Regions from separate parts of the Homo sapiens genome. Here region 1 is linked to region 2. Evidence: fine-mapped expression QTL. A gene starts in region 2. The other region holds a variant in brackets. All regions are shown on one strand. Distances are from middle to middle.

Region 1 (4,388 bases), 30 kb before region 2:
TACAAGTGCAATAACTGTAAGTCTGCTCTGTAAGCTGGATAGAGCCACTTCAATCCAAATTCACCAAAGCATAAACAGAACAAGTGACCAGTTTTATCTTGATAAATTTATTCACAGCCACACTCTTACCCGGAGATTGCACATGATTCTAACTGATAGTTCAAGAAGGTGGGAAAAGTTAAAATGGGAGACAAAAAGTAACTCAAAGTGTTCTCTCTCACCACTGTTCCCCAGCCTTCACTCCTCATAGCACACATTTTTGAGTTGCATGGAAAAGGAGTAAGAAAAAAGAGACTAGAAGGACAAAAGTTGATGAAAATCTGCAAGTCACCAAGGAGGTATGAGGAGGAATACAATTAAAAAGTACTCCATATTTCCCTTTGCACGTCACTGATTGTGAGCTACAAGGTACATCAATATTTTCAGTATTATAAGATGATGGACACTTCCTAATCTTTCCAGATATATGACTTTTAGTCACCCTTTCAAAAGGCATCAAAATATGCTATGTATTTTTTTAAATAAAACACTTTTTCAAAATTATTGCAAAAAAATCTATTCTTTCTGTAAGTGGAAGAGAGTTACTGCTTACTATTGGTAAAAGTATCCTAGCTTATTCTATTACTTGAGTTTCCCCTTATTTTATAATTTACTGTAAATTACATTTTTATTATTATTTGGGACATTTTGTGGTATTTTTTCCCAAGACACCTAAGGAAATTTGCAATGCCACCAACGTGATTCCTGTTTAGTTAAGCAGCTACTGCTCTATTGACTGTCTCTGAGATAGTGACACCCCCTAACCACTCAAACATTGTTCTGCTGTACCATTAAACGAGGCAGAAGGCATAATTTATTGGTTGATCCTACTGAGTAGCTGAAGTTGCTAATATGTTTTTTAAAAATCATATAATTTGTGATTCGTCGTATTATATACGACTTACCCTGGGTGACTGGCAAATTGGAATTTTTTAAGAAAAGGAAAGTTTTCAAGCATCAGTATATGACTGTTTTGTTAAAATGCAGAGCAACTGAGTACTTAGTTCAATAATGGACTTTTTACAAAGGCCATAACTTTTATATTAATAGCTACATTCTGTAACAGTATGTCAAAAAGCTGCATAACAGATCCTTTAGATCTATTACTGTCCCTCCAAACAAAACCTGTTATGCACAAATGCAACATCAAACAACAATCTGTAGCAGCCCATATTGCAAATAATCTGAGCAGAGTCCTGGGGGCCTCTTTAAAGGCTGGTCATGTTTTGCAATTACAAACACATATTCGACCTATCTGCAGACATGTATGTGCGTGCCTGGGTTCCTCCTCCCTTACCCATACACCCTTGGGGGAATCTGGAAATAGTTTTTCAACCGGTTTGCTCACACTTTCAAAGAAGTGCTTGGCTTCTGTTGTTTTTTTGCTTTTTATCATGACCAATAGAAGTGGAATCCAAAAATATCCATCCTAACCACACTAATAGAAAGCAATCAAATATCCAATCAACCCCCCCAGCCCTACCTACTATCCGCCTGCTCTCTAGGTAACATATGCAACTCGCTGTGGCTATGCGGTTACCACGGAGGGCTTTCCGGTTGCCTCTCCCCAAGGGTGTTTCAATAACCAGGCACAACGGGGAAAGCAAAGAGCTGAGTTTCCTACCTCACTCTGAATCTCCTCGTTTCCACGGGGGGTTGGGGGGCAGAGGGGAGTGTTCGCCAAATCCTTCATATTATTTGAGCACAGCTCTTGCAGGCTATTTTATTTTTTCTCAACGAGAACTTTCCTAGATGAGTAAGCGTGTTTGTCTTTAAGAGTTGTTCCAGGAGAGATCATGCATATTTCAGCCAGCT[C/A]CAGATGAAACGAGTTAAGCGATTCTCCAGCATGCTAATGTTTGAAAATGCCATATTTGTGCCATATTCAGACGTTTTACTAGGAACCCGACTTCAAGGCAGTCTCCGAGCCCCCAGCCCTCTTCCACCCCCTCCTACTCCTTTATGTATATATGTTGCATAATTATGGAGCAGTGAGTATTTATCACCTTTTCTGGGCAGTAGGCAGAAAGAAATACAATACCATTACTTCCAGTTACTGCTTTTCCCAAGATAATTAGGTAACACAGTGGAGGAGCCTTGGTAAGCCTAACGCTGTTCAAGTTAAGTGATTGACATGGCCCTGTCTGGCTGCTCTATTAACTGTTTCATTTTGTTGCTATTTGCAGTTTTCTTGGCTAATACTCCGAACAAATACGGACTGTTTCTTTAGCCCCTTTTTTCTCTTTGACCTTCTCCTGCCCATTTTCTTTGACTCACTTCAAACTGCCTTGAAAAGGCCTGTTGAATGCGCACAGTCCATCAGAGGCCCAGGTTCGTCCCTACCCTTGCCCTGAATGCCTTACTTCAAAGATGGCCCGCATTCTTTAATTGCCCTTTGAATTAATATCAAAGGGTCACAATGCGAGTGCCAAAAGAGAAAGGGGCTTTAATGAAGCAAAGAGCTGCCATTCATTTGCAGATAAGCACGTTTTTATGCCTGAACGGTCACCATGGCTAAAGGCTTCGTGAAGAGGAGGCTGGCCTGTGACTTACTTTTCCTTAAGTAGTGATTAGTGCAAACAAACAAGAGTAAACAAATTTTTTTAAAAGTCTACAAACAACGACAACATAAAATAAATAATAAGGCTAAATTCTCAAGCTGCACATTTCTCTCCCACCTTTCCATAAAAAAAAAAAAAAGTCGTACTTAATCAGCAAATCCCTTCACCATTTTTAATACCATATTTCAACATTTAAATTCCAAGGGCAAAGTTCAACAATATGCCGAGATAAAGTATTTTCAGTTTGAAATTGTGTGCCATGGGTAGCACAGAGGGAAAATGTGATGACTTTAACATAGAAGGAAAAAATGCCACCTTCACAAAAAATGTGCTAGTGAGCTCAAGACATAATTACTTTTGAAATGAACATTTGTGCTTAAACACTTAATTCTTTTAGTAGAAAGAATTTAGTTCGAGCCTAAAATAGTAAAACTGTATCTCTCTATCTACACATTTAGATAATATTTTTCCATTTCTTACAAAGAAATCACCATGCAGTGGCCACTGTCTGCATTGTCCCCTTGCAACACTGTAGCTGAGGCTATAGAATGAGCAAACCAACAGCACCAGAGGTCAACACAAGGTAAAATACAGCTCAAATCATAAATGATTACAGAGTGAAATAGTAAGCCCTGTTTCCCCTCTTCATCATTCTCCTTGCAGAGAGGTTGATGATTAAAGAAGGATTTCAGTCCTGGTGAATTATCATCTTAGCTCAAGCTCCGACTAGCATCCTTGGTGCTCAGCTACAAACTGAACCGTTGGCCTCCTGGTAGACATAACATTCAGACCATTGTCAGGGCTTCTCTCCCCTCACTGGATGCTTTGGTAAACAGAGTTTATGTTACCCTCAATGACGTACAAGGGAGGTCCTTGTTCAGATGTTTCCATCGGTCTCCAAAAGTGAGTTGCCAATTTTGCATTCGTGCAATAAAATTGTCGCTGCTAAGTTAAAAGAAAGAGAAAAAGAGAGAGGTTTCCCTTATCTTCAGGGAAATCAAAAGCATCTTCTCCTCACTGGCCTTATTTTCCATGAGCTTATCCATCTGGTTCAGAGTTGCCAAAATAGAGTGAAAAAGGGCAGCAAATAAATGTCAGAGAGCCAGCCAATCTGCATAAATCTCCAACTCCTTCCAGAGAAACTCCTTCCTGGCCTGCTGGGCCTTCCAATCTTGTGACATGAGCCAACAGACATCAGAACAATGTGAAAATCAAAAGACTTATTTTGCCCAAATCCAAACCCTTAAAAGCAGTTTCTCCCATACTAGTCTTTCACTAGATATGCAGCGGTGTGCTGCTTTGCAATAAAGCAATGTTATCCCAGTAACTAGGTCCCTTATGTCCTAGATATAGAATTAGTTCTGTCTATTTTAGACTGACCACAGGAAGATCCACTTAATCCTTGTTAAACTGCACTCTGAGACAGCAAGAAGGCAAATCAATCAGCTACCAAACCTTGTTTCAATGAGTACAAAAGGAATCAACAGATTCTAAGTAAATAATACTTTATATTTGCTCAGGACTTCTGATGTGTTCGCGGTCACTAACACAACAATCCTTTGAGGTAGTGGAGCAAATATTATCGCCTACATTGAAAAGGACTCCAGCTCAGAACACATAGTGACTTTTCCATGATCACAACTATTCAGAGAGTGAACCAGGACAAATCTCTTAACCCCAAAGCCTTTCATAAAGCCATGGTTATATCTGGTGTAGAACTAGACCTGGGCAGCCTGATGTCCTATGGATTCTTTACCAAAATCCGTAAGTGGAATAAACTTCAAGACCTCT
Region 2 (4,324 bases):
GCCCGCCCGCTCACCTTGGGCTTGCTGCCGCCGATGGCACCAGGACGTATGGAGCCAGTCTCCTGGTACCTGCACAGGATCTTGGAGACGCAGCCGTGGGACACGCGCAGCTGGCGCGAGATGACGCAGGGCCGGATGCCGTGGTGGGCCATCTCCACGATCTTGTGGCGGATGTGGTTGGGCAGCGGCCTGCCGTTGATAAAAACACCGCCGAGCTGGTTGACGCGGCCCTGGCCGAGGGGAGTGGACACTGTGGGAAGGTGAAAAAGAGAAGCAAGGGAAAAGTCACTGGAGGAAAATAAAAAGCAAAGAACAGCAGCACGTAATTTCGCAGTCTTCTGTCCTATCCTCATGTTACAGCACCGACGCTGAAACTGCTCGACATCGGACTCCCAGACCCAGACCTCCTTTCAATCACATTTGTTCAAATTATTCAGCAATATAGCGCATGTAATCTTGTGTAAAGACAGCAAATGGGGCAAAATAATTCTCCCCAGAGAAAGCGTCTTCCCCTTCGGGCCCGGGGAGTGGCAACTTAGGAGACCCTGCAGCTGGTAGAGAGTCTAGCTTGCTCTAGAAACAGCCTCCTGGCGAAGAGAAGTTCACCCAGGAGCTGGCCTTGATGAACTCTGCTCCCACCGATCCCTGTCCAATTGGGATCTCTCCCTTTCTAAGGGACTTGGGCCAGCTGATAGCCCTTGGGGTTTCTAGCCAAAAGTGCAGCAGCCAAGGGTCAAAGAGGGTCCAGAAAGGAGGCCCAAGCAGCAGTGCCTGTGTCACCTGTTACATCTTGGGACAGAGACCACAGCAGCGGCAGGGCTGTTCCTGGGCCCCCAGCCCCCATTCTTGCTCTGGGTGTTACATTCTACTCTAGGCTGGGTGTGAAGGGAGTGGGTGGCGGGGGCGATGAGCATCTCTGCTGGGGCGCCCTAACCTGGAAAACCATTGAAAACGGCTCAGGCTTGCAAGACTTCCTGCCTCCCCGGGATTCCCAGAATCTTCAAGTGGACGGAAAGGCGATTCCTAAACAAGTTATAGAAACTTCTAGATGCTATTTGAGATACATAGAATTCTAATTTATTTAATTATTCTAAAAATTCCAATCACAATGGCGCGGCGTTAGCCACCACAACTTTGCAGGGCAAAAAAAAAAAAATACTTCCTGAACTAACATATGTTTCACAAGTGTGGGCGCAGCCGGGACAATTTCGAGACAACTTCGAGACAATTTCGAATGGACAAATTGCGGAGAAGTTGCTTCTGCCGCTCAGAAGCCGGTTCACCTCCTTCTCCACCGCGGCATTTCCAAAACAACAGGGACAAGTCTCCCCGGCTCGCCGCAGGCCTGACCGCCCAGCTCCGCCAGGATTTGCAGAGAGCAGCGCGCTCCATTTGCAGAAAGGAAATCGAGTAGGTCCTCGCCCCCGACTGGTGCTTCTTGGGGTGTGGGGTGCCCAGGGAATGGGCTTCCTGGAAGCACCAAAGGAGCCTGCGGAGCCTGGGGATGGGGTGAGGCAGCCGGTCCCAGGCCCTGGGATCCAGGCGGCGCGCTGAGGCCCTCCCTTACCTTCCAGCGGGAACCCGCTACGCGGGTAGTTCTGCCCCGGGCCCGGCCGCATCATCCTGGGCACAGCGCCGGCCAGCGTGGTCATCCTGGGGGCAGCTTCGCTCGGAAATTATATCCAGGTGAAGGCGAAACGGAAAGGCGAGTGCGGCGCGGATGACCCTCGGGAACTATCCGGAGCGTGGAGAGCCCCTCCCCAAAACGGCTGGAGAGAGAGGGAGGGACGCGGGGAGGGGGGCTGTCGGTTCCTAGTCCAGAGGCCGGAGCTGGAACCCGGGAAAGGGGAGGACGGGGAGGCCCCGGAGTCCAGGATCCCGAGCCCAGGGCGGAAAAGTTTGGTACGAGTCTGGGCAAATGTTCCAGCGACTGGGGTCCCTGAAAAGGGGGCTCAGAGAGCCACGGCGAGCCGGGGAGCCTGGTGAGGCTGGAGCGCGGCCTGCCTGAGTCTCCTCCTGTGGTGACACCGAGTGCGGGGATCCGGGCTCGGGAGCATTTATTAGTTCTTTTACCCAAAGCTTGGTCAGGAGCCCTGAGCTGCGATTGGCCGACGGGTAGACCGTCCCGGGTGGCGGAGACACGCGCTGATTGGGCAACAGCGACCACTTTCTCTTCCCATCTCTGGTGGTGCCGAGGCCTCTGCTGGCCCCGAGGGGGACCCGCGCTGCGCCCCTTGCCCAGGAGAGAAGGTTGGCCCGGTGGAAACTGAGAGAGACAGCCCCAGGGAGATGGCAGTTGCTGAGGGCGGAGAAGTTCCTGTCTCTCTGTCTCTGTCTCTCTGTCTGTGTCACTCTGTGTGTGTGTGTGTGTGTGTGTGTGTGTGTGTGTGTGTGTGTGTGTGTGTCTTTCTCTGATCACTCTTTCCTTGACTTTCTATTTCCCTCTCTGTCTCTTTCTGTGCCTCTGTGTGTGTGTCTCGCTCAGCCTCTATTCCTCTTGTGATTTCCTGTGTCTCTCTCTATGTCTCATTTTTTCTACCTGTAGGTCTCGCTCTCATTTCTCTTGGCTTACTGCCACTGGAGGGGGCACAATTCCAATAAGAAGGCATCTGGGGCCCCAGACATATTTAGCTTTCCTTCCTGTGGTCAGTGCCCCTTGGCCTAGGCTTGTTAAGGGGTCCTCCCGATGGGGCTCCTCCTGGGAGGAGTCCAGGGTGCGCTGATGTTCTTTTGTCTTCTCCGTCCGCAAGCGGGGCTAATGTGAAGCACAGGCAGCCGTCGCTAGGCCCAAGCACTCGTTAGTTGAAGGCTGGGGGTATGGGGGAGGGTGCAGAAAAAAACCTGGCTCCTCTTCTTGGTGTAAAAACCGCTCTGGCAAGCTGCGGTTCTAAATCTCTACATATAGATCCCCGATGCGTCGACAGAGATGTGTCTGTATGTTAAAGTTTTGCCCGGGTTCAGCGTTTGTTCTCAGGAATTTATTATGGCATTCAGACTAAACTGCTGGAAAAATAAAAGGAACGAAGTCTTGGCTAGGAGCTGAAGTGTCCCCAGCAGGATATGACGCCAGGAGTGTTGTAAAGACTGTCTGTCCTTAGAGAAGGTACCATTGTGCATAGCCTTTTATTTATAACTTGGTAAGTGCCAGCGAACTCGCCTCCTTTACACCCCCGAGTGCCAGCCCCGCGCTCTGCACTGCGCTTTATTCGCTCGAGCCTATTCAGGGACTGTCACTCCGGGGCCGCGAGGTATTCAGGGCCTTAATCAATCAAAAGGATGAGAATCGGGCAGGTTTTTCCCTTTGAAATAAAGGAAACAATGACTTCTGGGCTTCAAGTTCCCCCTTTTCCTTTTATGATTTTTGAATTTTTCCTGCCCCTGGAGGGAGTTCTCCACTCCTCTCTCTCTGTCCCCCTCCCCCACCTCCTTTGACAGTTTTGACGTGAACTCGGGCCCCCAACCCTACTTCCCCATTCCCTAATTAAGGCAAACTCAGAAGGCAAGATGTAGGGGGGTGTGGGGTATAGCCGCTCAGCAGTCCACAAGTTGGCCCTTTAAAAACCCACTCACCATTGGGGAAACCAGGCAAGCTTTCAGCCTGCCTGATGCCAGAAGGCTTGGTTGACCCTCAGAGCCACGGAGACAGGTCTCAGGAGACTCCCAGAAATGTCTGGACCCATGAAGGAGGCATGTGCCTTGTTTAACCTGGTTTTACATTAAATGATTCAATTTTTCAAGGGGAAAATTTTCTCATTTTCTTTTTAAGGCGTTGGGGCCACCAAAGCCTGTGTCCGTACGTTTTAAGCCACTTCTCAGCGATAGCATTTTGAGAGCTAGACTTTTTCCAAGTTTTCTTCTTCCCAAAGGTTAAGCAGAGTCGACAGAGCACTTTCTGGGGTCAGCGGTAATTGCTGTGTGAAGGAGGTACCAGAAGTGTAATTTCAAGAAGGCAAAAGTAGGCTCAACTCTCAGCTAAAATAAACTCTTGGACCCCGCGAGCAGTTAAAGAACATCTAGAGCTGAGTCTCATTTGTTTTTGAGCCGGAGGCTTGGTCTCCAAGCCCTCCCAGCGTCCACCCGTCTCTCTCCTGCCGGGAGTTTTCTCTCCTAAGAGCCGGCAGATGCTGGAGGGAAGCGCTTGCTGCAAGATTCCTTCTCCCGGTCCCGTAGATTGCAGAGTCCGCGGGACCGTTGAACGGAGGTACTGCCGGCTGAGCTGGGTCTTAAGTGCCCATGGGTTCATAAACTAGCTGTCACTTGCTATAAACATGTACAAATGGAGGCCACAAGGATGTGGGGGTGCTGGGGACCTAAAGCTCCGGAA

Which allele goes with the higher level. Positions count from the first base shown, and alleles are read on the strand shown. Sizes are in standard deviations (SD) of each study's normalised expression.
As copies of A replace C in region 1, the expression in subcutaneous fat of the gene that starts at base 2,035 in region 2 goes down (moderate effect, 0.44 SD a copy in TwinsUK).

What was found.
Region 1: its variant is fine-mapped to the expression of PAX3 in subcutaneous fat (TwinsUK, PIP 0.95).

Annotation. Positions count from the first base shown.
Region 1 is chr2:222,266,935-222,271,322 of GRCh38, forward strand. The region is part of intron 4 of PAX3 (paired box 3); the gene reads right to left. Among named protein-coding and RNA genes, the nearest start is that of CCDC140, 29 kb to the right of the region's middle. The variant C/A (reference allele first, on the strand shown) is at 1,855.
Region 2 is chr2:222,296,964-222,301,287 of GRCh38, forward strand. PAX3 (paired box 3) reads right to left here and starts at 2,035. Exons shown (of 9, transcript NM_181458.4): 1 at 1,568-2,035; 2 at 15-250. The coding sequence starts at 1,652. It overlaps CCDC140 (CCDC140 long non-coding RNA), which reads left to right and starts at 1,184. Exons shown (of 2, transcript NR_161172.1): 1 at 1,184-1,410. RefSeq lists a promoter at 1,635-2,666 and cis regulatory regions at 2,053-2,090, 2,661-3,215.